2 separate regions of the Homo sapiens genome follow, and region 2 is linked to region 1. The links come from fine-mapping of genetic effects on gene expression. A gene starts in region 1. The other region holds a variant in brackets. All regions are shown on one strand. Distances are from middle to middle.

Evidence for each region. PIP is the estimated chance that this variant, and not a neighbour inherited with it, causes the effect.
Region 2: its variant is fine-mapped to the expression of CA13 in lung (GTEx, PIP 0.96).

What each region holds. Positions count from the first base shown.
Region 1 is chr8:85,236,295-85,252,953 of GRCh38, reverse strand. It overlaps CA13 (carbonic anhydrase 13), which reads right to left and starts at 7,496. Exons shown (of 7, transcript NM_198584.3): 1 at 7,089-7,496; 2 at 2,017-2,214. The coding sequence starts at 7,125. LOC105375936 (a long non-coding RNA gene) reads left to right here and starts at 9,469. Exons shown (of 3, transcript XR_929126.3): 1 at 9,469-9,609. It overlaps LOC124901969 (a long non-coding RNA gene), which reads right to left. Exons shown (of 4, transcript XR_007060985.1): 4 at 15,084-15,235. RefSeq lists an enhancer at 6,692-6,801 and a silencer at 7,162-7,241.
Region 2 is chr8:86,170,114-86,186,772 of GRCh38, reverse strand. LOC105375623 (a long non-coding RNA gene) reads right to left here and starts at 6,305. Exons shown (of 5, transcript NR_188044.1): 1 at 6,154-6,305; 2 at 67-126. The variant A/G (reference allele first, on the strand shown) is at 8,144.

The DNA.
Region 1 (16,659 bases):
AAGAAAAGAAAAAAAAACTTACTACTTTTATGAATTTGACAAATATGAAGAAGAAATGTGGTTGGGCTTATAATTTTTGCTAACAATAAGGCTTTACATAAATACAAGATATTACTACTAATCTAAATCTGGGCTCAATTAATAAGTAAAAACTTTCTTTCAATTAAGGATTTTTAAAAATTAACTATATTTTTTCATTAATAGAGCAAATACAGCATCATCCTGATCTTAGATTAAAAATAAAAACAATCTGTCAGAGGCCCTAAAAAGTGTTTCCAAATATGATTCTCTCTAATATTTTATCTCATCTTACATTTAAACTTGATACCTTGGGCAGAATCTCTGCTTGGGCAGTAGATAGTCTGAAGAAGGATTAAACATTCACTTCAAGAAAATGTTTTTTCATCACTTATTTAATAAATTAACAAATAATCTATAAGTCCATTATTTATTCATGGTGTGAAAGACACTATCCCAAGAACTAATCATTAAACGAAATGATTACGTGTTCTAGAAAAAAGTACTAATAGGGAATATACAGTAAAAAAGTTTCATATATTTATTTTTTTAAAAAAATTAAACTTCTACTTTCCCTCCCTTCAATGTCCATTGTTAGGAGAATGGTACATAAATTACGATACAAGCATAGCTAATACAATTCAACTTTTAAAATTATTTTACTTTTATTTTTATCTTTTGAGACAGGATCTTGCTCTGTCACCCAGGCTGAGTACAGTGGCACTATCATGGCTCATTGCAGCCTTGACCTCCTGAAGTCAAGCAATCCTCCTGCCTCAGCCTCCAGAGTAGCTGGGAGTAAAGGCACACCCCACCATGCCTGATTAATTTTTTATTTTTTGTAGAGATAAGTTCTCACTATGTTGCCCAAGCTGGTCTTGAACTCCTAGACATAAGCAATCCTCCCACCTCAGCCTCCCAAAGTGCTGGGATTATACATGTGAGCCACCACACCCGGCTGCAGTTTAGCTTTTTAAACAAGATATATTTTAATCTGGAAAGATGTCTATAAAATATTTTTAAACAAGAAAAAAATTCAGAGTTATATAGCATTATTCCAAATGTATTTTTAATAAGAAAATGCAAAACAAGGATGATACACATGTATGTATACATAACTAAGCACCGAAATATTATGGAAGAAATAACATTAGTTACTTCAGGAGAGACTGTGGGAAGAAAGAGACATTAATATTTGTTATATGTTTCCATATTGTTTCATTTACTATGAGTGGATATTACTTTGGCAATTAAAATAAGAGAATAAGTTTTTTTTAAACTAAACTTTTTCTATTAAAGCAGGTACTTAAATGGCATTATAGGTTTGCAAATAATGCTAAAATAATTACGGCTAAAACTTTGCAGAAACAAATCATGAAATATCTATAAAAACTATTAAACTTTAATATTTTTATAATGGTAAATGCTAAGTGAAGTTATAATAACAAGCTAAGGTCAATTTTAAATTATCATGCAACATATCCTTTTCCAAATACTCTTTATTATTTTAAGGTAAGATTATCTGAAGGTTCAAATATATAACAAGATATCTTAATTCACACGAAGAAAAATATGCTTCAATTTGACAAATTCCAGGTCTAGCAAAAACAAAACATGAAAGATTAGAGAGTGTATTCTGGGTGCGGTGGCTCACGCCTGTAATCCCAGCACTTTGGGAGGCCGAGGCAGGCGGATCACGAGGTCAGGAGATCAAGACCATCCTGGCCAACATGGTGAAACCCTGTCTCTACTAAAAATACAAAAAAAGTAGCTGGGTATAGTGGCGTGCGCCTGTAATCCCAGTTACTCGGGAGGCTGAGGCAGGAGAATCTCTTGAACTTAGGAGGCGGAGGTTGCAATAAGCCAAGATCGCGCCACTACACTTCAGCCTGGCGACAGAGCGAGACTCTGTCTCAAAAAAAAAAAAAAAAAAAGAGTATAGTCTAATCATTCAAACCCTTCATCCACCACCACACACACAAAAAAAGAAAAGCCAACCTGATTTGTTCTCTGTGTCATCAAAGTCAACATTGAAGGAATGGCCGCTGTTGCTGATGATTTTAGCTGAGCTTGGGTCATACTTGATACTAAGTGGTCGGAGGGAAGAGTCATATTTCACTTCTTTGGTTTTAATCTCAATTGGAGATTGCTGATCACCATCAGCAATAGGGAAAAATTCCTTCCAGTGAATAGGACCTTAAATATATAGGACCAAAAGAAAAGGATTAAATAAGTTCTTTCTTTCAACAAACATACATTGAGTATAACACACTGTGCTTGAAATTGAAGAAAACGCAAAGATTAATAAAATGAGATTCTCGTCCTCAGGACCTTGGCATCTAATTGTTTTTTTTTACAAGATTAGTTGTTTTTATTATAGATGTGGGAAACTCTTGGTGTGCCTTAAGTCATGTTCAGAATTAAAGTAACCCTTGTAGACAAGAGTCTGTAAATTTTATAAAATACTCTCCAAAGGTAACCTTCTACCAAACTAAAAACAATAATACAACTCATCATTGAAAACAATGACATTCAGTCTCAGCTCCAAAAATGAGCTATTGCTCCAGAGTTCAAGTTTGCAGATTGGAAGAGTCAAAAAAGCTGAGAAAGCCATGAAGCAAAGAAAGGGTGTCATTCTTAAAGATGCTGTGCTTACTTCTTTATTCTTCCTTCTATCACTCAATGCTATCGTCTAGTGTCACTCAGGCCTCCACTCAATTACCTGTGATGTGCAACAGGCATACCAAGGAAACACACAAATTTTTCACCTAGGATAATCCAAATAAAATGGCTGCACCACGTCAGGAAACGTAATATTGTTGATTATCTGCAGTAGAGTCAGATTGTAATTTATTTCTCTCTTTCTTCATTTCAGAAGGTTCTTCTATGGTTATTTTGCCAATGTTACATTTGAATTTCAACACAAGAGAAAGGTATCATCCTGGTCCTCTACTCAAAAACGTCAAAATCGTATCAAGTTCACAAATCAGACATGTTAGGGAAATTGAAACGAGCCAATCAGCTAACAGTTCCCTTTTCAATCCTCTTCACTTCTTTGGAAGACTCTATAAAGTCTTGCCTCTCAAAATCAGCAGCAAAGCTGTAGTTTCACGTAAGTTCCATGTCATTCTACAGATGTGAGTCACTTTATAGGTTATAGGTTCTTATTCTCTCTACTATTCCTGAAATTTATACAGCTATCACCACCTACACTGGGCTACTGACTAAGGTTTACCCACCTACTTTGCTAACCAATCTTTCACTAAAAATCAAGTACTAATTAAAACATCATAGCATGACAATTAATTAAACCTGTTACTAACGACAACCAAAAACATTTTAAAATGATAAAATTTAGAGTAATATTTAAAGAAATGCAATATATCACAATCATCAACAAACTTTAAAGCATAAAATTCTAAATCTTTTTTTTTTTTTTTTGAGACAGGGTCTTGCTCTGTTACCCAGGCTGGAATGCAGAGGTGTAATCTCAGCTCACTGCAGCCTCAACTTCCCAAACTCAAACAATCCTTCCACCTCAGCCTCCCAAGTAGCTAAGAGTACAGGTGTGCACCACCACACCCAGCTACTTTTATAAAAAACTTTTTTTTGTTGAAAGTCTCACTACAGGCTGGTCTCAAACTCATGGGCTCAAGTGATCCGCATGTCTCAGCTTCCTGAAGTGTTGGGATTACAGGCATGAGCCACCACGCCTGGCCCAAACTCTAAATCTGATACTGCTTACTATGCCTCATTTTTGCAAAAGAGAACTCACACATACATACATTCTTTCATATATGCTTCAGGCACAAAAAGTCATAGCATAAATATATAACTATACACTCAGCTTAAAAGATGTCATCTGACAAACTGGACTTCAAAGCCACTTGAGCATCAGAAGTCCTTGCTTAGAATGTATTACAGAAAAAGCCTTTTTTATTCAATACTTTCACCATCTTTCTGAGTACTTTTTCTATATATAACCTAGACTTTTTTCCCCCTTAATTCAGAAAAAGCCTTCTATTTCACTGCCACCAAGTAAGAGTTAACCTAACGAAAATTCAATTTCAAATGCGCAATGCATGTGTTACAATATGCAGGTGACATTCTTCCAATCAATAGAGTTGCTTTCTTCTCCTAATTGCTTTGCTCTCCTATTTCCAGTCATTTATAAACAGAACTATTTTAAAAAGAAGTCAAACCAAAATAAAATAAAAGTAATAATTGTTTGTATCACATTCCCAATATTATCTACTAACTACCATAGTCAGTTCAGTACCCTGCCTCTTAAAGAGGTCCCCTTTTTCAATTTTTCCAAAAAAAATTTCCTCCTCTCCTCCTTCTCCTTGTCCCCCCCATGACCCTGCAGGCTAGTCTGGAACTCCTGGCCTCAGGCAATCCTCCCATCTCAGTCTTTTGAGTAGCTAGGATTACAGGTGCAAGCCACCATAATTCTTTTTCTTTTTTTTTTTTTTTTTGAGACAGAGTTTCACTCTTGTTGCCCAGGCCGGAGTGCAATGGCGTGATCTCCGCTCACTGCAACCTCTGCCTCCCAGGTTCAAGCAATTCTCCTGCCTCAGCCTCCCAAGTAGCTGGGATTACAGGCACGCACCACCACGCCCAGCTAATTTTGTATTTTTAGTAGAAACGAGATTTCTCCATGTTGGTCAGTCTGGTCTTGAACTCCCGATCTCAGGTGATCCACCCACCTTGGCCTCCCAAAGTGCTGGGATTACAGGCATGAGCCACCGTGCCCAGCCAGCATAATTCTTAATTAGAGATATGTGGTGGTTGCTCAACTGATTTAGGAACTTTTAAATACCTACAGTGATATACACTTTTCAGTGATGTCACATTCGCTAAACTAAACTAATAAAGTAGTCAAAGGTTAGGGGAAGAATCCTAAGTTATTTGTGAAGGCAGTACCCTTTCAGGGCTTCAAGTCTTGATGTTTTATTTTATCAGTGTTGCTATTCCCAGCTTAAGTTTCCTTTTATCTGCTCAGTCACTGGTTTACCAATGTTTAAACAGAAAAAAAAAAAAAAACAAAAAACTTGCCTAGTTAGGCCCAGAGCTGTGGCTCATGCCTGTAATTCCAGTACTTTGGGAGGCCAAGGCAGGCAGATCACTTGAGGTCTGGAGTTCTAGACCAGCCTGGCCAACATGACGAAACCTTGTCTCTACTAAAAATACAAAAATTAGCCAGGCATGGTGGCTCATGCCTATAATCCCAGCTACTTGGTGGGGCTGAGGCTGGAGAATCGCTTGAACCCAGGAGAGGGAGATGGCAGTGAGCCAAGATAGTGCCACTGCACTCCAGCCTGGGCAACAGAGCAAGACTCATCTCAAAAACAACAAACAAACAAACAAAAAACTTGCCTAGTTAGTATATAATACATTTCCAATAGGATTTTCCCAATCTTTCTCTGAAGACCACACCTTTAAGTAAGGATGTGGTCTTCAGAGAGAGATCGCATCTAAAAGAAAGGAATGGCTAATTCCTAACAGAACAATTCCTAACAGAAATACAAAATCACTCCTTATTAATGGCTTTGCTAAGATGAATTTTTAAAATTGCTGAAATAAGCTTCATTCAGGTGAATAATTTCTAACCTACTAAAGAGTAATCAATATCCATTGATTGATTGATTGAAATACCCTTCTTCTTCCTAACTACCATAAAGGCGCAGTTGGGATTCAATGACTATTAAATAACTCCAATAAAAACGACTTCAGCAGAGAGGGAAATGAAAAAAGATTTGTCATATTTTCCCCCTAAACATTCACTGGAAATTAGCAAAATGTAAGATTATAATTATGGCCTTAATCAAGAAGAAATCTGACTATACACCTTTTATTATTAAAGTTATAAATTTCACCTGCTGCCATTTTTAAACTAGCATGTTTAAAAACAGGCTACAATTAGAAATTAAACAGGCTACAATTAGAAATAGAATTTTTCTGTTAGTTTGTGAAATTAAACTTTCTATAAAATTTGACCATTCTATACTGTTTAATCATGTACATGCTAATAGAAGGAAAGCATTATTATTCACAGCCTTAATTTTTTTCTTTATTATGTATTTACTTCTTAAATTGACAAAAATTGTATATATTTATGTGTACAACATGATGTTTTGAAATATATGCACATTGAGGAATGGCTAAACTAAGCCTTAATTTTGACAGTTATTCACTATAAGGCTTTTTGGTGTCACTGCGATTATTTCAAATAATTATTATTTAAACAATCAGTTCAGTTTAACGTAGGAACAAGAAAAAATGTTTTACTTTTGATAATGTGTGATATACAAGAAGAAAAGTGTATGTCATTATTATTTATCCTATTAATACATTTCTATCAATGAATTATAATTTCAGTAATCCTTTGCTCACCCTGCAAGGATGAGCGTGGAGAAGAAGAGTGGAGAAGTAACCCACAATGTAACTTAATTTCCCAGCGAGAACCTGAACCCTTACTAAAGTCCCCAGTAGTAGTCAGCCAACTGCAAATTGCTGTGGGAATATTTACAGTAACAACTATTAGGAAACATGCAGTATTTTGTTTGCCACGAAGCCAACTTAATCTTCAGTGTCACAATGCAAGTTAAGATTTCCTAAATATATTTTTAAAGATTTTCTATGATTTGTTTCTCCTAAGTGAATAGTGAGCTTAAAAGACTGAAAGCGAACTTGTCCTTATTTCACTGAAGTGTGTCATCAGACTTCTGATCTCCAAGCCTGTAATTGATACGTGGCTGTTACTAGGCAAAGTCCTTGGCTTTTCAGATGAAGGTGAACTCACACGTATGAACACTTGGGAGTTTGGGGAATCCTGACAGAGATAACACACACCAACGCTCACATCCACCACCAACAACCCGTCTACCCTGACAAGACTGCTCTCCGCTTCTCGCACTGGGCTCCCAGGAGTGCTGCTTAGTTTAAAGAGGAACCGAAAAAGTTTCTCAATGTGCGAGCCCAGTGTGTGGTCAGCGAGCGCCGGGGCGTCGCGCTAGTCCTCTCGTCCCCCGCACAAACCCCCCCTTGGATCAGGAAAAGGCGCTCACCGTTGTGCTCGCGGTATCCCCAGCTGAGCCTCGACATGGTCCCTCGGGGTGGAAGGAAGAGAAAGATGTGACTGAGCAGCGAGAAAGAGGAGGGAGCGGGGAGGGGCCCGGGAAGGAGCCTGCTAGGGCGGGACCGCGGGGCGCCGGCGGCAGGAGTGCGAGACCGTGAACCCGGTCCGGGGCGCTCCCGCCTGCGTCCTCCAGACGGCAGAGGCGTGCGGGGAAGGCGCCCGCGCCGCTGGCTGACTCCTGGGGCGCGAGTCTCTCTTAGTTTGGACTCGGGAATGAGAGATTTGAGTTAGAGGGAGAGACGGAGAGAGAAAGGTTTCCGGGGGGGATCTCCTGCCTTCTGAGGAGTCGTCACTCGGGAGAGGAAAGTGTTGCCTAGAGGACTTCCAGGAAGTGAATGAGTCACCAGAGCCTGGAACTGCCAGGCTGGGAGGTGGGGATCCCGGTGGAGGCGTAAAAGAGGTCGGTGATGGTCGTGGCAGTGATGATTACAAATACAAAACAATAATGACGATGGTAATCACCACCACTGAAAAATAACTACTTATTAAGGGCTTATCGTGGGCGAGGGTCTTAGCTAAGACGTGTACCCACGTTTTCCCATTAGATCCTCTCAGCATTTCCTCGAGAAACACGTGGCTTAAGTTAGAGACACTATGTAACCTGCCCCGGGTCGCTCAGCTAAAGCGGGCGGGGTCGCTGTTAGAGAGGACCAGCTCCCGGTCCTGGGCTGGCTCCATTGCCCATTCATCCTTTCCTTACCTCTTCTCACTCTGCAGGCTTGTGGCTTGGTGAGTGAGGAAACCAAAACCAGTTGTTGAGATTTGGTCCCAAAATTCTGCTGCCCTCCTGACCCCGCAAGAAGGGTTTTCAGGACATCTGCCCTGGATTCTTGGTGGGCTTGTTACCCTAGGACTGGAGTCAGAACTAGCTGCAGAGTCTTGAATTTCTGGCCTGGAGTCGTGAATGTTCTGGGTTCAAAGTGAAAAATAAAAATTGGGTACATGAACCACTTTCTACGTCCTTGTCTCGGGTCAACTGCCTCATATTTTATAAATCCAAGCAACCTCTTTGTAAGGAACCTAGTAAACCAATTTTCAGTAACTCGGATGATTTGGTATGTCAAGATGAATAATGCTCTTAACGTTCTAAGTAAGTATCAGTTCTTGACACCCAATAATAGTGGTTACATGAATGGATGAATGACTGAATAGACCAAAATTGTTAAAGAAATTTTGGTTGGTGGGTCTCAAATACTTCCCAAATTGTTACTTTTATTGCTTGGGTACACAGTTTGTAACCACCCAATGGGTTTACCTTGCCCACTGTCAAGACACAGCTGATTTATCAAGACAGGGGAATTGCAATTCATAAAGGGAAATTCACGTAGAGCCGGCTGTGCAGAGGACTGGAGTTTTATTATTACACAAATCAGTCTCCGCAAGCATTGGGGATCAAAGTTTTTAAGGACAATTTGGTGGGTGGAGGAGAGCCAGTAAGTCGGGAGACCTGGTTGTTTGGGTCAGAGGTGAAATCATAGGGAGTCAAAGCTGTCTTGCATTAAGTCAGTTCCTGGGTGGGGGCCATGGGATCAGATGAGCCAGTTTATCGAGCTGAGTGGTGCCTGCTGATCCATCCAGTGCAGGGTCTGCAACATATCTGAAGCACTGGTCTTAGGCTTTACAATAGTGATGTTATTCCCAGGAGCAATTTGGGGAGGGTCAGAATCATACAGCCTCCAGCTGTATGACTCCTAAACCATAATTTCTAATCTTTTGGCTAATTTGTTAGTCCTGCAAAGGCGGTCCAGTCCCCAGGAAAGAAGGTTTGTTTTGGGAAAGGGCTGTTATTGTCTTTGTTCTAAACTATAAACTATGTTCCTCCTCAAAGTTAGTTCAGCCTATGCCTAAGAATGAGTAAGGACAGCTTAGAAGTTAGAAATAAGATAGAGTTGGTTAGGTCCAATCTCTTTCACTGTTTCAATTATAATTTTGCAGTAGTGGTTTCAAGTTCCTTCTTGTTTAAATTCATAGCGCAGTCTATATAATTTTCTAAAACAGCAACCTAAGTATTGGCAACAATCAAATTACCTTTCATAGGAAACTAGTTAGGTCATCTGTAGAGCATCCATCATTCAATGGACTTATATATATATATATTTTTTTCAGATGGAATTTCGCTCTTGTTGCCCACGCTGGAGTGCAATGGTGCGATCTCGGCTCACTGCAACCTCCACCTCCCAGGTTCAAGCAATTCTCCTGCCTCAGCCTCCAGAGTAGCTGGGATTACAAGCATGCATTACTAGTGGCTAATTTTTGTATTTTTAGTAGAGATGGGGTTTCACCATGTTGGCCAGGCTGGTCTCCAACTTCTGACCTCAGGTGATCCACCCGCCTCGGCCTCCCAAAGTGCTGGGATTACAGATGTGAGCCACTGCGCCCAGCTGCCATTCAATGGACTATTGTCCATTTATAAAAAGAATGAAGATCTCCATGAGCAGAGCAGATATAAAGTGAGTCCTGGGATGTATTGAGGTTGCGGGAGCGGGGGAAGCAAAGGAGCAAAAGAGTGTATATAATAGACTGCATGTTTAAGAAAAAAATAGAAATAAGAAACTGCACACATATTTTCAGATTTTTACCAAAAAAGTAGAGAAAAAGCCATAAATTAATAAAAATAGTTCCTTATAGAGGATGAGTGTGAATGGGGTGGAAGTGTCAGAGGCAATGGAACCACAGCAACTCCATTCAAATCTTATTATATGCTAATTATAATGCATTCACATGCTAAAAGACACTCCCACCAGCCCCAGGACAGTTTACAAATACCATGACAACATTTGGAAATTACCCTATATGATCTAAAAGTGGGAGGAGACCTCAGTTCTAGGAAATTCCCACCCTTTTCCCAGAAAACTCATGAATAATCCACCCCTTGTTTAGCATGTAATCAAGAAATAACCATAAAAAGTAGACAACCAGTTGCCCTTAGGGCAACTCTGTCTATGGAGTAGCCATTCTTTTGTTTCTTTTTTTTTTGAGATGGAGTCTCTCTCTGTCGCCCAGGCTGGAGAGCAGTGGCACGATCTCAGCTCACTGCAACCTCCACCTCCTAGGTTCAAGTGATTTTTCTGCCTCAGCTTCCTGAGTAGCCGGGACTATAGGCGCCCACCACCACGCCCGGCTAATTTTTGTATTTTTAGAAGAGACGGGATTTCACCATGTTGGTCAGGCTGGTCTCGAACTCCTGACCTCGTGATCTGCCCACCTCGGCCTCCCAAAATGCTGGGATTACAGGCGTGAGCCACCGCACCGGCCCCTTTTTTTCTTTACTTCTCTAATAAACCTGCCTTTACTTTACTCTGTGGACTCAACCCAAATTCTTTCTTGCATGAGATTCAAGAACCCTCTCTTGGGGTCTGGACTGGGACCTCTTTCCAATAACAGAGGGAGAGGGATAAGTGAAACTTCTCAGTGTATCTTTTTGACTTTTAATCATAAATGTCGTAAATTAACTTTAGCCTAAAGCTGCCTCCTTACATATTTTAGTCCAGCTTAAAGTTTTCTGTGTATATAGTGAACTCTAACCTAACTAGATGTGTAAATAGACTGTAGCCCACTCTTGTGCCAATCACTGAATGTTGGCCAATCAAAGGCAGCCAACTGTTCAAACCCTGTTCAACTGAGGTAAACTTTGAGCTGTAACCAAACCAGCTGTTTCTGTACCTGACTTCCATTTTCTGTCCATCACTTTCCTTTCTCTGTCCATCAATCTAACCACACAGAAGGGCCAGAGTCTCTCTGAACCTATTCTGATTGGAGACATTGCCCAATTTGCAAATTGTTCTTTGCACAATTAAACTCTGTTCAATTTAATTTGTCTAAGATTTTTCTTTTAACATTGTTCTGCATTTTTAAAAAATAAATTTAAATTAAAGAGAATAAAAAAGCAAACCCTGAAATTGAATTCAAACAGAAACAATTAAAATTAATTGTATATTGAATTGATAATGTAACCATAAAGAAAAAGTTAAATAGCGTTCGACTATAGTACTTTGGCTATATATCCTTAGTAGGACATATAACATATTAAGAAGAAATGAAAGAAAATCTTGAACATTACTAGTAGGTTTGTTTTTGGTAGGATATTGGTGTTATGCTTCTGAAACCATTTTTTATTGGTTTGTTTGTTTGTTTTGAGATGTTGTTTTGCTCTGCCACCCAGGCTGGAGTGCAGTGGTGCAATCTCGGCTCACTGCAACCTCCACCTCCCGGATTCAAGCGATTCTCCTGCCTCAGCCTCCCAAGTAGCTGGGATTATAGGTGCCCACCCCCATGCCCTGGCAATTTTGTGCTTTTAGTGGAGACGGGGTTTAACCATGTTGGCCTGGCTGGTCTGGAACTCCTGACAAGTGATCCACCAACTTCGGTCTCCCAAAGTGCTGGGATTTACAGGCATGAGCCATTGTGCCTGGCTGGAAACCACTTGTGTGAAAATAGTAAGATAGAGCAAATGAACAAATATATTGATAATCTCTGGAAGCATGATTTTCATTCTGGTTTATACAAAATAGGAAATGACAGAAGCTAAGAAATAAACCCGTGGTGTTGCATTTGAACATTCTCTTCACTGAAAGATCCCAAGAACAATAATATCCCAATAATAATGAAGCTAATAAACCTTAAAATATATAGCCCTTCACTGAGGGACCACTTCTAAAGCCATATACTAATTTTATATTTGTAACTTTACATTCCTTTTCTTTAAAAAAAAAAAGTCCCAAAATTGTAGTAGCTTCAGGCTCTACAAATCTGAATCTACCCCTTGCTATGAGACACTGAAACTGCCCAATGGGTTCATCTTGCCCATTTCCTAGGCAGAACTAATTATTGATGAAGACAGGGGAATTGAAATAGAGCCAGCTAAATGAGTGACTGGAGCTTTTTTGTTTGGTTGGTTTTTTGAGACAAGGTCTCATTCTGTCACCTAGGCTGGAGTGGAGTGGTGCAATCACAGCTCACTGCAGCCTCCACCTCTCAGGCTCAAGCATCCTCCTGCCGCAGCCTCCCACGTAGCTGGGATTGCAGGCATGTGCCACCATGCCTGGCTAACTTTTTTTTTTGTAGTGGGGAGAGACAGGGTCTCACTGTGTTGCCCAGGCAAACTATGAGCCCAGTCAAACTCCTGGGCTCAAACAATCCTCTTGCCTTAGCCTCCTCCCAAAGTGCTGAAATTACAGGTGTCAGCCACCATGCCCTACTCAAAGTTTTATTATTACACAAATCAGCCTCCCACCACATTCCAAGGTTAGGGTTTTTCAAGAATAGTTTGGCAGGCAGGGGGCTAGGGAATGGGTGATGCTGAGTGGTTGGAAATGCAATTACGGTGGTGTAGAAAATGGTCCTCATGAGCTGAGTCCACTTTTGGGTGGGGGCCACAGAGGAGTTGCTGGTCTGGGTGGGGCCATCTGGTCATCATACATGCAAAAGCCTGAAAAAACATCTCAAAAGGTCAATCTCAGGTTCTACAATAGTGATGTTATTTATGAGAGTAATTGGGGAAGTTGAAAATGTCGTGAGCTACAGAACAAATAAATGGCTTTGGGAAGGGTTATTACCATTGAAATTATAAACTAAATTTCTCCCAAAGTTAGCTTGGTTCACACCCAGAAATGATCAAGGGCAGTTTGGAGGTGAAAGGCAAGATGAAGTTGGTTAGGTAAGACCTCTTTCACTGTTACAATTTTCTCACTATTATGATTTTTGCAAAGGTGATTTAAACACTAGCACCCAGATCTTGTTTCCTAAACACCATTCCCCCTTCGAAGGAACCAGAGCTATTTGGAGAAGTGACTAGTTTTGTTAGCAGCTGCGAACCTGTACAGGTCTACAACAACCTCAATTCTTGCCTCCTCAGAAGAAAGAATTTGACCAAGGGGCATAGGGCAGAGTGAAAGACCTAGGCAAGTTTTAGAGCAGGAATGAAAGTTCACTAACAAGTTTAGAGGGAACAAAAGGAAGTAAAGTACACCTGGAAGAGGGCCAAGCCAGCAACTTGAGAGATTGAAGTGCACTGTTTGACCTTTGACTTGGGGTCTTATACATTGGCATGCTTCTGGGGTCTTGCAATCCTTCTTCCCTGATTCTTCTTTGGGGTGGGCTGTCCGCAGGCATAGTGGACTGCCAACACTTGAAAGGGGCTGTATGCACAGTGTGTTTACCAAAATTGTGCACATGCTCACTTGAGGGGTTTTTTCCTTACCAGTTGAGTGTTCCTAAAGGAAGGTCATATACCAGTTAAACTCTGCCATTTGCCTCTTAGTGTGCATGCTTGAGACCACTCAACCAACTCCTGAGATCCTACTGGGAAGCTGCTGATCACCAACTTTAAGTGTTTCTATCTCTTGGGAGACTGCCTTTTCCTGATGCCAGCTGCAACCAATTATTATTTTAGAGAAGCAGTTTGATAACCGCCTGACCATCACCTGATGGTTGTCTGACATTCTTGGTTGGGGGGCAGTAGGGGCTCTCCTGCCCTGCTTAGGTCTGCTTGACTACCTACATAACAGTTTCAGGTCTAGAGCAGAGAAAGACTAAGATGAGCCTAGAACATATTTCTTATGCCAGAAAGCTAGAAAGCATTCAAACACACACACACACACAGACACATTCACACACACAGACACATTCACACACACACACATACACAGATACGCACAAATAAGGTAGCTTGAAGGAGGAACTGCTGACAAATTTGGGATAATTTGACCATCAAAAGAAATAATGATAGTAATAGATTATAACTCCCCACCCACCAAATATCCATCAGTGCATAGTGATGCTGAGAGAGAATGAGAGATCTTCTTTATGTCCACTAGCAAATACAGATGAAATGATAAAATTTTAAAACCACCATTTTTGCAAGGCCTATATAATCTCTGTATAATCTCTGATTCAGGCAAGGATCAGTAATGGGTACTAAAACTTCTGGATGAAAGGATATTGGGGAATAGGATATTCACACAGTCTAGGATTAAAAGAGACAAAAGATATGTAACAGCTAAATGCAATGTATGATACTTAATTAGATTCTAGGTTACATAAAAGCTGTAATAAATATTTGGGAGACATTTGGAGAAATTTAAATATGGACAGCATCTATGTGATATTATTAATTGATACTAATTCTCTCAGGAGTGATAATGGTACTGAGAATGATTTAAGAGTTCAACACTAAAGCTACAGGGCTGAAGTACTTTTTTTTTTTTTTTTTTTTTTTTTGAGACTGAGTCTTGCTCTGTTGCCCAGGCTGGAATGCAGTGGCGCAATCTCGGCTCACTGCAACCTCCTCCTCCCTGGTTCAAGCAATTCTCCTGTCTCAGCCTCCTGAGTAGCTGGACTACAGGCACACACCACCACGCCCCGCTAATTTTTCTATTTTTAGTAGAGACAGGTTTCACCATATTGGTCAGGATGGTCTTGAACACCTGACCTTAGGTGATCCACCTGCTTCGGCCTCCTAAAGTGCTAGGGCTGAATATCTTGATGTCTGAAACTGACTTCCAAATGTCTCAGTAAATAATTGATTAATCTAGCTGGAGGATATTTGGGAGCTCATGATAATATTCTTACTTTTTTTCCGTAGGTTTGAAATTTTTTCAAAAAAAAAAAAACAACTGAGGAAACAAACATCTTTTTACTTCTTCAAATCAATGAATCCATTAACTTACTAAATAACTTTCATAACTATTTGTGTGGTTTCTCTTTAACAAGGAGCCTCTGTCTCCAGGCTTACAACCATTAAGTGTAATCAAGTAAAAGAAGACTAACACTGGTTGGGCACAACCTGTAATCCCAGCACTTTGAGAGGCTAAGGCAGGAGGATTGCTTGAACCCAAGAGTCCAAGACCAGCCTGGGCAACACAGTGAGACCCTGTCTCTGCCAAAAAAATATATATATATATTAGCCAAGTATGGTGGCACCCACCTGTGGTCCCAGCTACTTGGGAGGCTGAGGTAGAAGAATCACTTGAGTCTGGGAGGTGGAGGTTGCAGTGAATTGCTTGAGCCCAGGAGACGGAGGTTGCAGTGAGCTGTGATCATGCCACTGCACTTCAGCCCGGGTGACAGAGTGAGACCCTGTCTCAAACAAAAAACAAAAACAAAAAGACTAACACTAACCAAATAACCCAGAAATGCTGACCCACGATATGGTCATCATCTCCACCTCACTCTTTTTTTGGTCAGTGGAGATGTGTGTTTTTTTTTCACTTCACTTTTGAACTGGTTAGATCCAATTTAAGCTCCCTTAAGGAACAAAATGTGCTGAAGTCCGCTCTCCTCTTCAATGACACTGTGTGTCATAATAAAGCAGCACTTGTAAATTACAAATCTAGCCATAAAAATATTTAATTAACACAGTAACATATTAAGGAAATATCAGAGTATAAGTTCATGTTGTTTTATTAGGGCATGTATACAGACTCTCCCTGAGATGCACATTTTTCCAGGTATTCTTTTTATTTATTTATTTATTTATTTATTGAGACAGAGTCTTGCTCTGTTGGCCAGGCTGGAGTGCTGGAGTGTACCCTCTTGGCTCACTGCAACCTCCGTCTCCTGGGCTCAAGCAATTCTCCTGCCTCAGCCTCCCGAATAGCTGGAATTACAGGCATGTGCCACCATGCCCGGCTAATTTTTGTATTTTTAGCAGAGATGGGGTTTCACCATGTTGGCCAGGCTGGTCTCAAACTCCTGACCTCAGGCAATCTGCCTGCGTCTGCCTCCCAAAGTGCTGGGATTACAGGCATGAGCCACCGCACCCAGCCCCCAGGTATTATTTTTAAAAACTCTAAATGTGAACCAAAGTAGCTATTATCATCTGATTTTTACCAAGCACGAAACTTAGATGAGCAAGGTTCCCCAGTCCCCTAGAGAGGCAAGCCACACAGTCAGGGACATAGCACCAGTCTGCAGAGTCCCAAGTCCAAGATGCTCTCCAATTTGTGCCCAGCTTCCTTTATTCATTGAGTCCTGTGATTTGTACAACCAGGATGTACTACCCACAAGAATGTCTTATCACTTGATAGCTTGTGGAGATTGTTGACTTTATGGAGCTGATACTATATGGGGTTTCGATTTCTTTATTTTCTTATTCCTAAGGTTATCCTAAGGTTAGTCTTACATAATGCAATCTCCCAAAGAGGAATTTGAGACTCAAAAGGGTTAAAGGACTTTCTCAGGTGACCAAGGTTTCACACCAAGATGAGGACTCTCAGACCAAAATTGAAAGGATAACTTCAATAAATCTCTTCCCCAGTCACCTCTCCAATGATAGCTTTCGGAAACTAGAGCCAAACATTTCTTTGTCCTATATTGTCAGATAAGAACACATTGCTAAAACCCAATTTCTACATTTTTGTTCTTTTGTTTAATTTTATACAGTTTTCTAATCGAAATTTATCTACACCCTATTTTGTAGTGTTTCATATCTTATTTGTGCATATTACAAAAGTAGGTAAAGTGTGAAAGAGAAAAAGGAAGCATCAAGACTATTTGAAAGG
Region 2 (16,659 bases), 930 kb before region 1:
CACAGATACCAGTCAACCTCACCAGCTTCACCCTTGCAAGAAAGCCACTTTGTAACCTGTACATACAGTTACTCTCATGCTTCTGGAAATCTCCTGGGTCTCCTGGTCTCCTGGATCCACAGCTGCCTTGGGTAGAGGAGAGGGAAGGGGTGAGAATAAGGTATGGGTGATGTCAGTGATGGCGTGAAGATGTGAGGTCCATTCATCAATCCATCTTATGAGTATTTGTTGAGCAGGTGCTCTGGAGCAGGCACTGTGGTAGGCTCCAGAGACACTGTGTTCATGAATAAGACACAGATCTGTGGCAGACAGCTAGTTGTCTCCCTGTATTTATATTATGTATTTATTTTTTGAGACAGGGTCTCACCCTGTCACCCAGGCTGGAGTGCAGTGGTGCAATCTCGGCTCACTGCAACCTCCACCATGTTGGCCAGGCTGGTCTCGAACTCCTGACCTCAGGTGATTTGCCTGGCTCAGCCTCCCAAAATGCTGGTATTACAAGCATGAACCACCGTGTTTGGCCTGTCTCCCTATATTTAATTTCCTCTCCTTCCCTAGTATTGATAATTGCCAGCTAAAGCCTACAGTGTGCAGGTTCTTTTGCTATTAGGTGTACTCATGTGACCAAGTTGTGGCTAATGTAATGAGTGGAAGCAGTGTTTGCTACTTTAGAGAGCTCAGCTTTTAAAGTATTCAACTTATGCACCTCTCATCCTTTTCCTCTTCTTATTGACAAAGAGGTAGCAAGAACTTGGCAGCTTGACTGAGAGATGGAAGCTACATATTGAGGGCAGCAGAGCAATCCCATCAGCTAGAAGGTTATATGAAAAAATTATATATGTGCAGCTTGTATAAGTGACATTATTTGGAGTTCTATTTGTTAAAGCACTTTAGCCTGTACCTTAATTAATGCAAGCTTTGCCTTCCTTGAGCTTACAGTCTACAGGGAAACTTAGTAATCAACTGATCTCAAAATAAATATATAATTACAAACTGAGTTAAAAGTTACATATGTAAGGGCCAGGTTCGGTGGCTCATGCTGACATGAGCCCACACTTTAGGAGGCTGAGGCGGGTGGACTGCTTGAGGCCAGGAGTTCAAGACCAGCCTGGCCAACATGATGAAATCCCATCTCTACTAAAGATACAAAATGTAGCCGGGTATGGTGGTGCACACCTGTAATCTCAGCTACTCAGGAGGCTGAGGCAGGAGAATCACATGAACCTGGGAGGTGGAGGTTGCAGTGAGTCAAGATCGCGCCACTGCACTCTAACCTGTGTGACAGGGTGAGACTCCGTCTCAAAAAAGAAGAAAAGAAAATTGTATTATAAGAGCATTTAATGAAGAGATTTGGCCTAATCTGAGGGGCTTAGGGAATATTGGAGAAAGCAAGAGTGGAGTAAATGCCAGAGGTGTGTTGGACATAGTATTTGAAAATGTATTATTTATTTATTAATTTTTAAATTTTTTTAGAGATGAGGGTCTCACTCTATCACCCAGGCTGGAGTACAGTGGTGCAATCATGGCTCTCTGAAGCCTCAACCTCCTAGGTTCAAGCAATCCTCTCCCCTCAGCCTCCTGAGCATCTAGGACTACAGGTGCATGTCATCATGCCTGGCTAATTTTTTAATTTTTGTGAAGACAAGGTCTTGTCGTGTTTCCCAGGCTGTTCTTGAAATCCTTGGCTCAAGTGATACTCCTGCCTCAGTTTCCCAAAGTGCTGGGATTACAAACATGAACCATGTACCTAATGATAATTAAAAAAAAAAAATCATTGTGAGGAGCACCTCTGCCCAGCTGCTGCACCAACTGGGAAGTGAGGAGCGCCTCTGCCTGGCTGCCGTGCAACCCTCCAGGTGTGAAGTGGCAGCCTTGTGTGTGATCTTTCTGCCATCCCCAAGTTTGCGTTTTCGACAGTAAAGTTTACTTTTAAATTAAAAGATTTAAGTTGGGGAAGATTAAAGAAAAAAAAAACAACAACAACGATTTTACATTAAGCCAGTTTTGTTTTTTGAGGGCCATTACCTAAATGCATATCTTCATGAATTTCTCTGCCTGGTGTAGTGCATGAGCTTGAGGGAGAAAGTCTAATAAGATGTACAAATTGTAAGTCACATAAAAAGGAAAAATACTAAATTTTGAACAGAACAACGTTACTGGTATTTATATTATAATGCTTGGTTTAAAAATAAAAGGTGGAGGCCAGGCACAGTGGCTCACACCTGTAATCCCAGAAGTTTGGGAGGCTGAGGCAAGTGAATCACCTGAGATCAGGAGTTCGAGACCAGCCTGGACAACATGGTGAAACCCCGTCTCTACTGAAAACACAAAAATTAGCTGGGCATGGTGGTGCATGCCTGTAATCCCAGCTACTCGGGAGGCTAAGGCAGGAGGATTGCTTGAACCCAGGAGGCAGAGGTTTCAGTGAGCCGAGATTGTGCCACTGCACTCCAGCCTGGGTGACAGAGTGAGACCCTGTCTCAAAATAAATAAATAAATAAAAGAGAAAAATGTTTATATAAGGTAAATCTATCTAGACAAACATGAGGACAGATGAAGTACAAATAAGATCCAAGCAAAAAGTACAAACTATTTCTTTTATAAAGGAAAAGAATGAGGTTATTTTTTGTCTAAATCATTGGCTTATTGTCCACAATGATCAGATGCAACTGAAAGACTGTGCAAATGTCTGCTCATTTTGTATAGACTTGAAGCCAGAGACTAATTACAACAAATAGTGTGTACTGACAGGAAAAGACAACACATAACTAGAACAATGCTTCACTAAAGAACAAGAAGCACTTTCAGAATGATAGACACACAAGCAAATTTAATAAGGTGATGCATAAATGTGCAATTTTACAAGCAAGGAACATTGCATCACTGGAAGACATCCAGATACAAGAATAAGAAAACCAGTGGGAGAGGCCAACTCATGAACTGAGAGTTGACCACTTAGTCTGATTATTCTATGTAGCATCTTTGTTTCTGTTATGCCTAATATGGAGATAATTTGGACTTGAAACCATGGGAGATTGACTAGATCCTCAAAGTCAATCTAAAACATATCTACTAAATCACACCTTGTATAAAAATTAAAAAACAACAACCACTAATTATGGAAAATAGTAGCAACTCTTAGCCTATATTATCCCATGGTGGAGAATTTTAGTATCCCCAAATTAAGATGCAATAATGTGGGAGAAATAGATATACCAAGTAAAATATGATATTTGCAAAAAGTATTGCCTTTACTAATTAGTTCACATGTTAAACTAAATATAATTTGCCTTGAGTACCGTAGAGACCAAAAAAATATTCACTGGAGGAGAAGAGAGAAGAATGAAAAATGTATGAATGGTTAAAAATACCAATATAACAATGAACATATTTTTTCCATATAAATGGAAAATTTTGCCAGTGGATATAATCTTAATAATTATGATGATGATGCAATTTTCACTTCATTAGAATTCAAGTTAAATAAGTTACTGAAAGTGTTTTCCAAGAGAGTTCTGATAATTTAAACAAATCTCTTCGTGAGAAAATAGTTTACTATTATGTTTTAGCTGTATCAGCATATAAAGAATAGAGTGTGCATTTCTGGAAAGCTAATTTTAAAATAGGAAAGAAGAATTTTTAAAGGCTCCATTGAAAATATCACCCTCATTTACTCTGACATAATTAAAAACATTTTTTTTTGCCTGAGTCTTCTTGCTAGGGAACATAATTTTATTATAACAAAAGTCATATCTAATTCAAGTTAAATATATGTTAATATCATGATTCAATTATGACTGCTTTAGAGAAACAAACATTTCATCATTTAGAAAATAAATTGTGATACCATCTTAAGTGGAAAATAGAAAAAACTAATAAAAATAGAAAAAATCTATTTGTTCAGGAAACATTTTAATATCCATAATCATATCTATGTATTATTTCATCATTTTTAGGGCATTATCACAGACATCACATTGTTTTGAGATCTGTAAAATCCATGTGAGAGCAGGCACTTATTCAATAGGTACTTACCTAGCACCAACTATGCGCCAGGCACTGAAAAGCACTGAGGATTTAATGTTGGGCAAACAGAGAGTCACTGACTTCTTGGAGTTTATAGTTTCCTGGGAAAGGCAGCCAATATATTTGATAGTTCTTAAATATAAGGAACTATGACATGTTAGAGAAACTTAAAGTTGGTCAATGTGGTTAAAGTACGGAATGAAAGAACGGTTAAGCCTGGAGAGAGAACCGAGTGCTGTTAAACTGGTTCTCCTGCATGGAGGAGAGAGGGGAGGTGTGGGGAAAACCCTTTGTAGCATTTGCCAGTTTCCACAGGATACATACTCTCCCCACATCCAATGATTCAGCAATCAGCTTGCAAATTTCCAAAATATTTAACCATCTGCATGCAGGTGCCAGCCAGTATGAGCCAGATCCAACGCACTCCTTTTCTTCCCGAGAGGCTAGATCACAGAGGATCCTTGTATGCCATAAGGAGTTTGATTATTATCTTAAAGAGCAATGGAAAGCTATTGCATTGAACATATTTTTATTTTTAAAATAAAACTTTGACTATAGCATGGATTAAAATGGGATGCAATGAGACAATTTCTGAGTACAGTGTGAGAGTCCAAGAGAAAGATGATGATGGCTAGAATAAGAGTGATGGCAATAGAGAATAAGCAGTTGACAAAGTCAAGAAACAATTTGATGGTAAAATCAACAAGTCTTGATGGACTAAGACGCAAGGCAGAGGATGATGTCTACAGGTCTCTGGCTTGCAAAACTGGAAGAGTGGATGGGTGGTGGTATCAAGATAGAAAACCCTTGGGTCGGGAGAAATAGTTTTAGAGGAAAAGATCATGAGATCAGTTTTGAATTTGTAGATTTTGATGAATCTTTCGTTCAGATCTCCAGGTAAAATGTTGAGTGGGTAGTGAGATATGCAGATTTGGAGATTAGGAGAGGTTTGGGCTGAAGATAACCTTTTGGGAGTCAAAGTTTAAATTACATGATAATTGATACCATGCACCGATATTATAGCCTAGGGAGAAAATACAAAGTGAGAAAAATGAGGACACTTAGGAATGATTATTGAGAATATGCAGCATTTAAAGACAAGCAGAAGAGGCTGAGCCAGGATAAGAGGGACACCATGGCCAGTGGGTAGGAGGAAAGCCAGGAGACTCCTTGGCTTCTCTTGGTCACAGAAGCCAAGAGAAGAGAGCGCTCAGGACGGATGGAGGGGGCAATGTTGCTGAATGTCGGGTAAGGAAGTAACTTGTCCAAGCTCACCCTGGGGATTGGGATGCAAACATTCTCACTGCGTTTGTCAAGAACAAATTCTTAGTCTAACCAGAGCAAATAGAAAGAAAAGATATTTCAAGGATACGCAGATTTCATTGAGAAATGAAGACAGTATCTGAGATTAATGAGAATTGGAACTGGAAAGAGCTTACCTTTTATGTCATTGTATTTGATTATAATTATTACATGTAGCATTGGATATGATTATGCTATGTTATTAGCATTAACTGTGAGTTTACTGTGAGACACTGCTCTGCACTTCACATGCATCTTTCTTTTGATTCTAACAATCCTGTGAGAACGATACTACTATTAGCTTCATTTTACAGATGAGAAAAATGAGTTTTAAAGAGGTTAAGTAACTTGTTCAAGGTCACACAAGTTGATAGGGGAGCCAGGGCTCAGAGATAGATTTAAGTGATTCCAAAGCTCCTACCCTTGAACAATGTACAGATTGGCATGAATCAAGGCATCTATTCCCAGGAGCCAGGCATGATGGCCTCACACCTGTAATCCTAGTGTTTTGGGAGGCCAAGGCAGGAGGATCATTTAAGGCCAGGAGTTCAAGACTAGCCTGGGCAACATAGCAAAACCGTGTCTCTAAAACAAAAATAAAATAAAATAAGTTATCTGGGCATGATGGTACATGCCTGTGGTCCTAGCTACTTAGGAGGCTCAGATGGGAGGATCACTTGATCCTAGGAGCTCAAGGCTGCAGTGAGCTATGATACCATACCACTGTACTCCAGCCTAGGTGACAGAGTGAGACCCTGTCTCTATTAAAAAAACAAAAAGTGTCTACTCCCTCGATCACCCCCACCCCTTTAGAGGCCCAGTCACCTCTGCTCTCTGCAGAATGCTCCATTCTCCGTTCTTATGGTGGGCTTCCTCAGCATCAGCTTGCATATGACCCATCATAGTCTTAGCCCTGATTCTTTATGAGCTTAGTGTCCACACATCTCAATTATAAACCTCACAGAAGAACGTGCTCAGACCAGTTCATCTAGGATGTAGAAGGAAGGCAGGTGCCCTCTCATGATTCAAACAGCTATGTCTAGGGATTGAGGTCATAAAGAGAATAGTGATTTGGGGCAGGGACTGTTACCTCAGAGGGAAGCAGAAACAAGATTGCTATCTTGGATATACATACTCTCAAATTCTCAGTCTTTTTGTATCTTCAACCTTTCTTCTGACTTTTTTCTAAACATATAAACATGTTCCTCTCAGTTTTAATCAGACATTTTTAATGGTAAATGACAGAAACTCAGCTACAATTTATTTAAGCAGAAAGAGAAATTTTCTTATAGAAATACTGATTATCTCAGATCTTGAGAGAAATAATGTTTCTGGGTCTCAGGAACAATCGGAAGTAAGTAAGGATCGAAATGGTGCTAGCACTCATTTTTCTTTCTGTTAGTCTTTCATCTTCGCATTTCTCTATATTTTTATTTGTCTTCCTCATTGCAGGTTGCTTTTCAAAACATGATGGAAAACATGATTGCCAACGAATTTTACAGTTTATAGTTTCAATCACTGAAATGAAATTGATTTGGTATTTCTCCAGTATAAAATCTAAAAATCCCATGGTGGGGAAACTGGCTCATTTGAGTACATTAGCCACTCCTCATTCATTCAGGTGGTTCACTGGTATGGATTCTTTAGACCAATTTGGATTAGATTAACTACCAATTAATTCTGACAAGGAAATGGATCATATAAGAAACATGATATATCTTGACTGGGCGCAGTGGCTCACGCCTGTAATCCCAGCCCTTTGGGAGGGTGAGGCAGGTGGATCACTTGAGATCAGGAGCTCGAGACCAGCCTGGCCAACATGGTAAAACCCCGTCTCTCTCTACTAAAAAATACAAACATTATCCCAGCGTGATGGCAGGCACCTGTAGTCCCAGCTACTCAGGAGGCTGAGATAGGAGAATTGCTTGAACCTGGGAGGCAGAGGTTGCAGTGAGCTGAGATTGTGCCACTTCACTTCAGCCTGGGCAACAGAGCAAGACTCCATCTCAAAACAAAAACAAAAACAAGAAATATGATATCTCTCATTCTTCTATCCCATGTTGGTGGAACTGCTTTGGGAGGACATTGGAAGAAGTTTCCAGGAGAAGCAGGTTGCTCCATTCTCAACTTCATGATGACTGGTTTCCTCTGCTTCAGTTTGCACATGGCCCATCAAAGTCTTATCCATGAGCTCTATTCTCATGAAGGTGCTGAGCTAACTACAGTCTTCCTTCTCACCTTCCTTTTCGCAGCCCAGCTTATTTTCAACTCATATTCATTTTCTTTATCTTAAAGTCAATTCTTCATCTACTGCAGTTTGACCTACATTCTCACTACTCCAAGAAACTACTTTTGCCAAGATTGTCACTAGTTAGTGCAATAAACACTCTTCAGTCTTTTTCTTACAACAACTCTCTTCAATTTATGTCATTGTTCACTAACTCCTATGTGACAAAGGCTTCCAATTGCTTCCCAGGATCCTTTTTCCCCTTTTTTCTTATTAAATGGAACCCATTGCTCACCTGGAATTATGGCTGTCTAGAATAAGATTTATTTTTCCCAGCCTCCTTTGAAGTCAGATATGGCCATGTGGCTAAATTCTGCCAATGGATTGGAATTAGAAATGTTGTATAAAATGTAGAGTAAGTGTCTTTCAAGGTAGTGATGCACTCTTCTTCGGCCTGTCCTTTTTCCTTCTGGGATGAATCTTGAGCAACCATCTTGGACGATTAAGATGCAGAGTAGAATGTAGAAAGAACTGGATGATAATAGAGGCCCCACACTAGTGTAGGCTGCCTAACTATACATCTAGTCT[A/G]TGTGAGAAAGGACTGTAACCTGCAACTAAGTATAATCCTAACAGATACATACTTTTTTCTTGAAACTCCCTTCCCTTTCCTCTGTTTACTCTCTGTAACTCTGCTCCCTACTGGCCTTCTTCCTACTATTTTAGATTTTCTAACTCAGACTTATTTTCCTTGATCCATCCCTTGTCTCCAGGGTTCTGTCTGGTGATCTCTGAATATTCTAATATTTTATATGTGAAACCTCATCAATACTCACACTTAAAATTGCTATATTATGTTGTTGACTCAGAAATACAAGTTTCTAGTCTTTCCCTCCTCTTCCGACTGCAGACCCAAGTATGCCTTAGCCTCTGAATGATTTTAACTTTTTAACATTCCTTAAGTTGCTTACATCAGTTAGTGACCCCCCTATCTTAACTGCTGCCTGAGAAAGAAGACTGAATTTCTCTCGACCTCCCTAAATGGTCTATTGCAGCAGTCTTATACTGGTCTTCTCTTATTTAAATTCTTTTCCACATTGCTGCCAAAGTTGTCTATATTTTTTTTTCTTTTGTCAGGGTCTCATTCTGTTGCCCAGACTGGAGTGCAATAGTGAGATCATGGCTCACTTCAGATTCAATCCCCTGGGTTCAGGTGATCTTCCCACTTCAGCTGCCAGAGTAGCTGGGATTACAGGCATGCACCACAATGCATGGATAATTTTTATGCTTTGTAGACAAGATTTTGCCACCTTGCCCAGGCTGGTCTCAAACTCCTAGGCTCAAGAGATCCACATGCTTCAGCCTCCTAAAGTGCTGGATTATAGACATGAACCACTATGCCTGGCCAAAGTTGCCTTCCTAAAACCAACTCCAATCATGATACTTTTCCAAATAAAAAATCTTTTAATGACTCTCCATTGTCCAATGTCTTAATGTGCATAACAGAAATTTCAGGTACTGCTTCTCTCTCCAGACTCATTTTCAGTAACGTCTTCAGATTCCAAACTTCCAAAAACACTGAACCATTTGCAGCTCCCACCTGAGCCATGCTCTTTGTAGATGCGGGATGCTTTGAAATACAGTTTTTCTACAGTTTTTCTCTCCTCTCGTTTCATAGCAAATTCCCACTTATCCTTTGAAACTCAACCCAAAGATTCTTTCCTCTATAAAGTTTTCCCTGATATCATCAGGTCTATGTAGATTGATGCTTTTCTTCAATGCTTCTAATAACTACCTAAATAGGTGCAAGCCTGCATTACATCTGCTACGTTGCGAATCACTTTAGTTACACATCTGCATTTTTGACTTGAGCTAGAGCTTATTTTTTTATATCTGGAGTGTCGTCTTCTTCCTGGTACACTGTAGGTATTTAATAAAGTGTTAAAATTATTAATTTATAAAGATAAAAATATGGGAAAAACTAAAGTTCTGTTTATTACTAAATTCATCTTGAAACTGATTATGAGCTCATCAAAAATAGCATTCCCAAATCAGGCTGCTACTCAGTACATGATTCTCTGAGTGGCCCTGTCAGTATCACTCTTCCTTTTATGCTTCCCCCGTATCCTTTGCATTGGCTATTAATCCAAAAGCAGAAATTCTAAGTCCACCTGGGCCAACAGGATATTCCCCCCACAGGCATTTGAAAATGACTTGAGGTTTGTCAGAAATGCAAGTTTCTGAGAGCTGAGTCATCCAATGTGAGTGTCTTACAGAGAGGATTTGTGAGCAGCCAGCCCTGATGATTTCCCTGGATCTGCTCCCATTTCTGTCCTCTCCAAAGACTATGTACACTGCTCTTCCTTTGATTTTGTGAGCAGCCCTTTTCACACACTCCCTTATTTCACTGAGATGAGCTAAAGTCAGTTTCTTTTCTTATAAATGAAAGAATCTTAACCAAAACACCAATTATAAAAATACTGAAGGACTGCAAACACTATTGGCTGATTCACTATTCTGCGGGTTAATGACTAGGTTCTCATAAATGCACACAGCGAAGCTCTTTGAGCATACAGATTTTATAGCTTTCTAAGAGGTTAGATTTAGCAGAAACAAAGGTAGGCAAATTCATGGTACTTTTCCATAAAACCACATGAACTCAATTTAAATATTGTTTTCATTTCAGGTGTCCTTTTTTCATGTTTTTTCATAAAAGAACATGTTTCACCTTCTAGAAACAGTCTTTTCACTTCAAATTTAAAATGCCATGTTAAGTTAGCATAGAATTTTGGCTTCAATTGTTCCTAGATGTTAGGTCCACTTCTCCTCAATGCCAATTAAAATGACATAGTCTGATGTATGTGTATCTGATGTTTCCATAGCAGCTAACACTAAGCAGCTTTACTTCCTAATTAGCTTGACGGTACACTGTGAAATTCCTTCGATCCAAAGATGAGATGTTATAAGATATGGCCTTTGTGTAAATATAACCTTCTATGACAGGAAGCCAAAAAAGCAAAATTTATCCAGATGAAACAGAAAGGGGAAATGTGCTCAGCCAAAGTGTTAAATTCAAGCTGAGATTTGGCAGAACACTGGGAAGAAAATATCCTCTACTGTTTTGTTATCACACACACACTCAGTGGAATACTTAATAATCAGAAGGAATTTAAGGCTTGGTTCTGTAATGCAGTTTGGCAACTGGCATCTCCAGTACCCGAGGTCTGTACATATCATCACAACACATTATTTAATACTGATTTAGAGGACACATCAGCCTGCTGATTCAGCTCCACTACTTCCTGTCAACAATAGTGATAATATTATAAAAACTCTCTTGTACCCAGTGGTTATTTAACAAAGTAGTCTCAGCTCTCAGGAAATAGAAAATAATCCATCAAGCTAAAAAACTTACCAAGAATTCAAAGCAGCATCTCAAAGTCCAGGTGCTAAAGCTGATCTGATCTGTATTTTCTCTTATGTTAGACTTAATTCTAACATAAAAATTTAGTTTTATGGCTCCCAAAAAATAAGCAGCAAATCAGAAGATAGAGACAAGTGACTTCTATTACACTGACAGTGAAAGAGGGGAAAGAACATCATAGAAAAAGCAAGAATAAAACTACAAAATGTGTACTTGTCTGGAGTCACTTCAAAGAAGGACAAATATTGGTGTAAGGAAGAGTCTTGGTGAAGAAATAAAAGAAAGAAAGAAAAAGCACAAATAGCCCAATTTAGCTTAGTAGCCCCAGCGGCAACTCTGTATTATTATTGGAAGGATGGGCATCCTGAACTATCAAGAAGAGTTTGGTAAATTCTGTGTAGTGGCCTCTAGTTATGAAGAAAGCAGCTGGGTGGGGTGGCTTATGCCTGTAATCCCAGCGCTTTGTGGGGCTGAGGCAGGCTGATCACTTGAAGCCAGGAGTTCAAGGCCATCCTGGTCAACATGGTGAAACCTTGTCTCTACTAAAAAAATATATATATACAAAAACTAGCCAGGCATGGTGGTGCATGCCTGTAATCCCAGCTACTCAGGAGGCTGAGGCAGGAGAGGAATTGCTTGAATGCGGGAGGCCGAGGTTGCAGTGAGCCGAGATCATGCCACTGTACTCCAGCCTGGGTGCCTGGGCGATGGAGCTGTTTAAGGAAAAAAAAAAAAAAGAAAGCAGAAACGTATTTAAATTTCAAGAAGACTTTATTATAAGACTGAATTGAGGCAGGGGCAAGGGGAGGATACTGAAGGAAGAGGAACAGCAATGAGTCCCAGGAACCAAGAACAAAATAGATGCGACTAAGGGCTCAGTTGTTGCAGCAGACCTTACCATGAAAGACTTGGAAGGGGAAACAGAAAGGAGGGCTAGGAGGAGTAACTAGAATTGCAAGACAAGCACATAAACTGCTCTAGGGTCTTGGGGAAGAGAGGCCTTGAGATGGTAACAGAAGAAATCACTGTACAAAAGAGACCCATACAGTGTAGTGCAGGTTGCTGTGGAAGGTGACAGGCCTCATGGCTTAGAATTCATCTGCAGCCAGGTGTAATTTGGGAATAAAGTAAAATTATTTTAGTCATGCATCTATAAACAGGTACTTTGATATCTAATACCAAATGTTTTATTTTATTTGAAAAGCATGTTTGCTTTATTTTGAGCAAGCATCATGCTGTGAATTAGTGAAGGCATAAAAGATAATGAAGAGATTCTTCCAAGATGGCCAAATAGGAACAGCTCTAGTCTGCAGCTCCCAGTGTGATCGACACTAGAAGACAGGTGATTTCTGCATTTCCAACTGAGGTACCTGGTTCATTTCATTGGGACTAGTTGGACAGTTGGTGCAGCCCATGAAGGGCAAGCCGAAGCAGGGCGGTGCGTCGCCTCACCTGGGAAGCAGAAGGGGTGGGGGGATTTCCCTTTCCTAGCCAAGGGATGCTGTGACAGATGGTACCTGGAAAAACGGGACTCTCCTGCCCAAGTACTGCACTTTTCCAACTGTCTTAGCAAATGGCATACCAGGAGATTATATCCCATGCCTGGCTCAGTGGGTCCCACGCCCACAGAGCCTTGCTCACTGCTAGTGCAGTAGTCTGAGATCAACCTGTGAGGCAGCAGCCTGGCAGGGGGAGGGGCATTCGCCATTGCTGAGGCTTGAGTAGGTAAACAAAGCAGCTGGGGAACCTCGAACTGGGTGGAGCCCACTGCAGCTCAGCCAGGCCTGCTGCCTCTGTAGACTCCACCTCTGGGAACAGGGCATAGCTGAACAAAAGGCAGCAGAAACTTCTGCAGACGTAAACGTCCTTGCCTGACAGCTCTGAAGAGAACAGTGGTTCTTTCAGCATGGTGTTTGAGCTCAGAGAATGGACAGACTGCCTCCTCAAGTGGGTCCCTGACCCCCGTGTAGCCTAACTGGGAGACACTTCCCAGTAGGGGCTGACTGACACCTCATACAGGGAGGTGCCCCTCTGGTAACAAGCTTCCAGAGGAAGGATCAGGCAGCAATATCTGCTGAGGGACCTGACTGTTAGAAGGAAAACTAACAAACAGAAAAGAATACCATCAACATCAACAAAAAGGACATCCACACCAAAACCCCATCTGACCAAAGGTAGATAAAACCACAAAGATGGGGAGAAACCAGAGCAGAAAAGCTGAAAATTCTAAAAATCAGAGCACCTCTTCTCCTCTGAAGGATCACAGCCCCTCGCCAGCAACAGAACAAAGCTGGATGCAGAATGACTTTGACTAGCTGATAGAAGTAGGCTTCAGAAGGTCAGAAATAACAAACTTCTCTGAGCTAAAGGGGGATGTTCGAACCCATTGCAAGGAAGCTAAAAAACATGAAAAAAGATTAGATGAATGGCTAACTAGAATAAACGGTATAGAGAAGACCTTAAATGACCTGATGGAGCTGAAAACTATGGCATGAGAACTACGCAGCGCATGCATAAGCTTCAAAAGCCAATTCGATCAAGTGGAAGAAGAGTTATCAGTGACTGAAGATCAAATCAATGAAATAAAGCAAGAGAAGTTTACAGAAAAAGTTAAAAAAGAAATGAACAAAGCCTCCAAGAAATATGTGACTATGTGAAAAGACCAAATTTGTATTTGATTGGCATACCTGAAAGTGACGGGGAGAAAGGAACCAAGTTGGAAAAACACTCTGCAGGATATTATCCAGGAGAACTTCCCTAACCTAGCAAGGCAGGCCAACATTCAAATTCAGGAAATACAGAGAACACCACAAAGATACTCCTTGAGAAGAGCAACTCCAAGACACATAATTTTCAGATTCACCAAGGTTGAAATGAAGGAGAAAATGTTAAGGGCAGCCAAAGAGAAAGGTCGAGTTACCCACAAACAGAAGCCCATCAGACTAACAGCAGATCTCTCAGCAGAAACTCTACAAGCCAGAAGACAGTGGGGGCCAATAGTCAACATTCTTAAAGAAAAGAATTTTCAACCCAGAATTACATATCCAGCCAAACTAAGCTTGATAAGTGAAGGAGAAATAAAATCCCTTACAGACAAGGAAATGCTGAGAGATTTTGTCACCACCAGGCCTGCCTTACAAGAGCTCCTGAAGGAAGCACTAAACATGGAAAGGAACAACCGGTACCAGCCACTGCAAAAACATGCCAAATTGTAAAGACCATCGATGCTAGGAAGAAACTGCATCAATTAATGGCCAAAATAACCAGCTAACGTCATAATGAGAGGATCAAATTCACACATAACAATATTAACCTTAAATGTAAATGGGCTAAATGCCCCAATTAAAAGACACAGACTGGCAAATTGGATAAAGAGTCAAGACCCATCAGTGTGCTGTATTCAGGAGACCCATCTCACATGCAGAGACATATATAGGCTCAAAATAAAGGGATGGAGGAAGATCTACCAAGCAAATGGAAAGCAAAAAAAAGCAGGGGTTGCAATCCTAGTCTCTGATAAAACAGACTTTAAACCAACAAAGATCAAAAGAGATAAAGAAGGCCACTACATAATGGTAAAGGGATCAATTCAACAAGAAGTGTTAACTATCCTAAATATATATGCACCCAATACAGGAGCACCCAGATTCATAAAGCAAGTCCTTAGAAACCGACAAAGAGACTTAGACTCCCACACAATAATAATGGAAGACTTGAACACCCCACTGTCAACATTAGACAGATCAAGACAGAAGGTTGACAAGGATATCCAGGAATTGAACTCAGCTGTGCACCAAGCAGACCTAATAGACATCTACAGAACTCTCCACCCCAAATCAACAGAATATATATTCTTCTCAGCACCACATAGCACTTATTCCAAAACTGACCACATAATTGGAAGTAAAGCACTCCTCAGCAAATGTAAAATAACAGAAATTATAACAAACTGTCTCTCAGACCACAGTGCAACCAAATTAGAACTCAGGATTAAGAAACTCATTTAAAACCACACAACTACATGGAAACTGACCAACCTGCTCCTGAATGACTACTGGGTACATAATGAAATGAAGGCAGAAATAAAGATGTTCTTTGAAACCAATGAGAACAAAGACACAATGTACCACAAGCTCTGGGACACATTTAAAGTAGTGTGTACGGGGAAATTTATAGCAGTAAATGCCCACAAGAGAAAGCAGGAAAGATCTAAGATTGACACCCTCACATCACAATTAAAAGAACTAGAGAAGCAAGAGCAAACACATTCAAAAGCTAGCAGAAGGCAAGAAATAACCAAGATTAGAGCAGAACTGAAGGAGACAGAGACACAAACCCCTTCAAAAAAATCAATGAATCCAGGAGCTGGTTTTTTGAAAAGATCAACAAAATTGATAGACTGCTAGCAAGACTAATAAAGAATAAAAGAGAGAAGAATCAAAATAGATGCAATAAAAATGATAAAAGGGATATTACCACTGATCCCACATAAATACAAAAACTACAATCAGAGAATATTATAAACACCTCTACACAAATAAACTAGAAAATCCAGAAGAAATGGATAAATTCCTCAACACATACACCCTCCCAAGACTAAACCAGGAAAAAGTTGAATCTGTGAATAGACCAATAATAGGCTCTGAAACTGAGGCAATAATTAATAGCCTACCAACCAAAAAAAGTCCAGGACCAGATGGATTCACAGCCGAATTCTACCAGAGGTATAAAGAGGAGCTGGTACCATTCCTTCTGAAACTATTCCAATCAATAGAAAAAGAGGCAATCTTCCCCAACTCATTTTATGAGGTCAGCATCATCCTGATACCAAAGCCTGGCAAAGACACAACAAAAAAAGAGAATTTTAGACCAATATCCGTGATGAACATCGATGCGAAAATCCTCAATAAAATACTGGCAAACTGAATCCTGCAGCACATCAAAAAGGTTATCCACCATGATCGAGTTGGCTTCCTCCCTGAGATGCAAGCCTGGTTCAACATACACAAATCAATAAACATAATCCACCACATAAACAGAACTGACAAAAACCACATGATTATCTCAGTAGATGCAGAAAAGTCCTTCAACAAAATTCAATGGCCCTTCTTGCTAAAAACTCTCAATAAACTAGGTATTGATGGAACATATCTCAAAACTATAAGAGCTATTTATGACAAACCCATAGCCAATATAATACTGAATAGGCAAAAACTGGAAGCATTCCCTTTGAAAACTGCACAAGAGAGGAATGCCCTCTCTCACCACTCCTATTCAACATAGTGTTGGAAGTTCTGGCCAGTGCAATCAGGCAAGAGAAAGAAATAAAGGGTATTCAATTAGGAAGAGAGGAAGTCAAAGTGTCCCTGTTTGCAGATGACATTATTGTATATTTAGAAAACCCCATCGTCTCAGCCCAAAATCTCCTTAAGCTGATAAGCAAGCTCAGCAAAGTCTCTAGATACAAAATCAATGTGGAAAAATCACAAGCATTCCTATACACCAATAACAGACAATCAGGGAGCCAAATCATGAGTGAACTCCCATTCACAATTGCTTCAAAGAGAATAAAATACCTAGGAATCCAACTTACAAGGGATGTGAAGGACCTCTTCAAGGTGAACTACAGACACTGCTCAATACAGTAAAAGAGGACACAAACAAATTGAAGAACATTCCATGC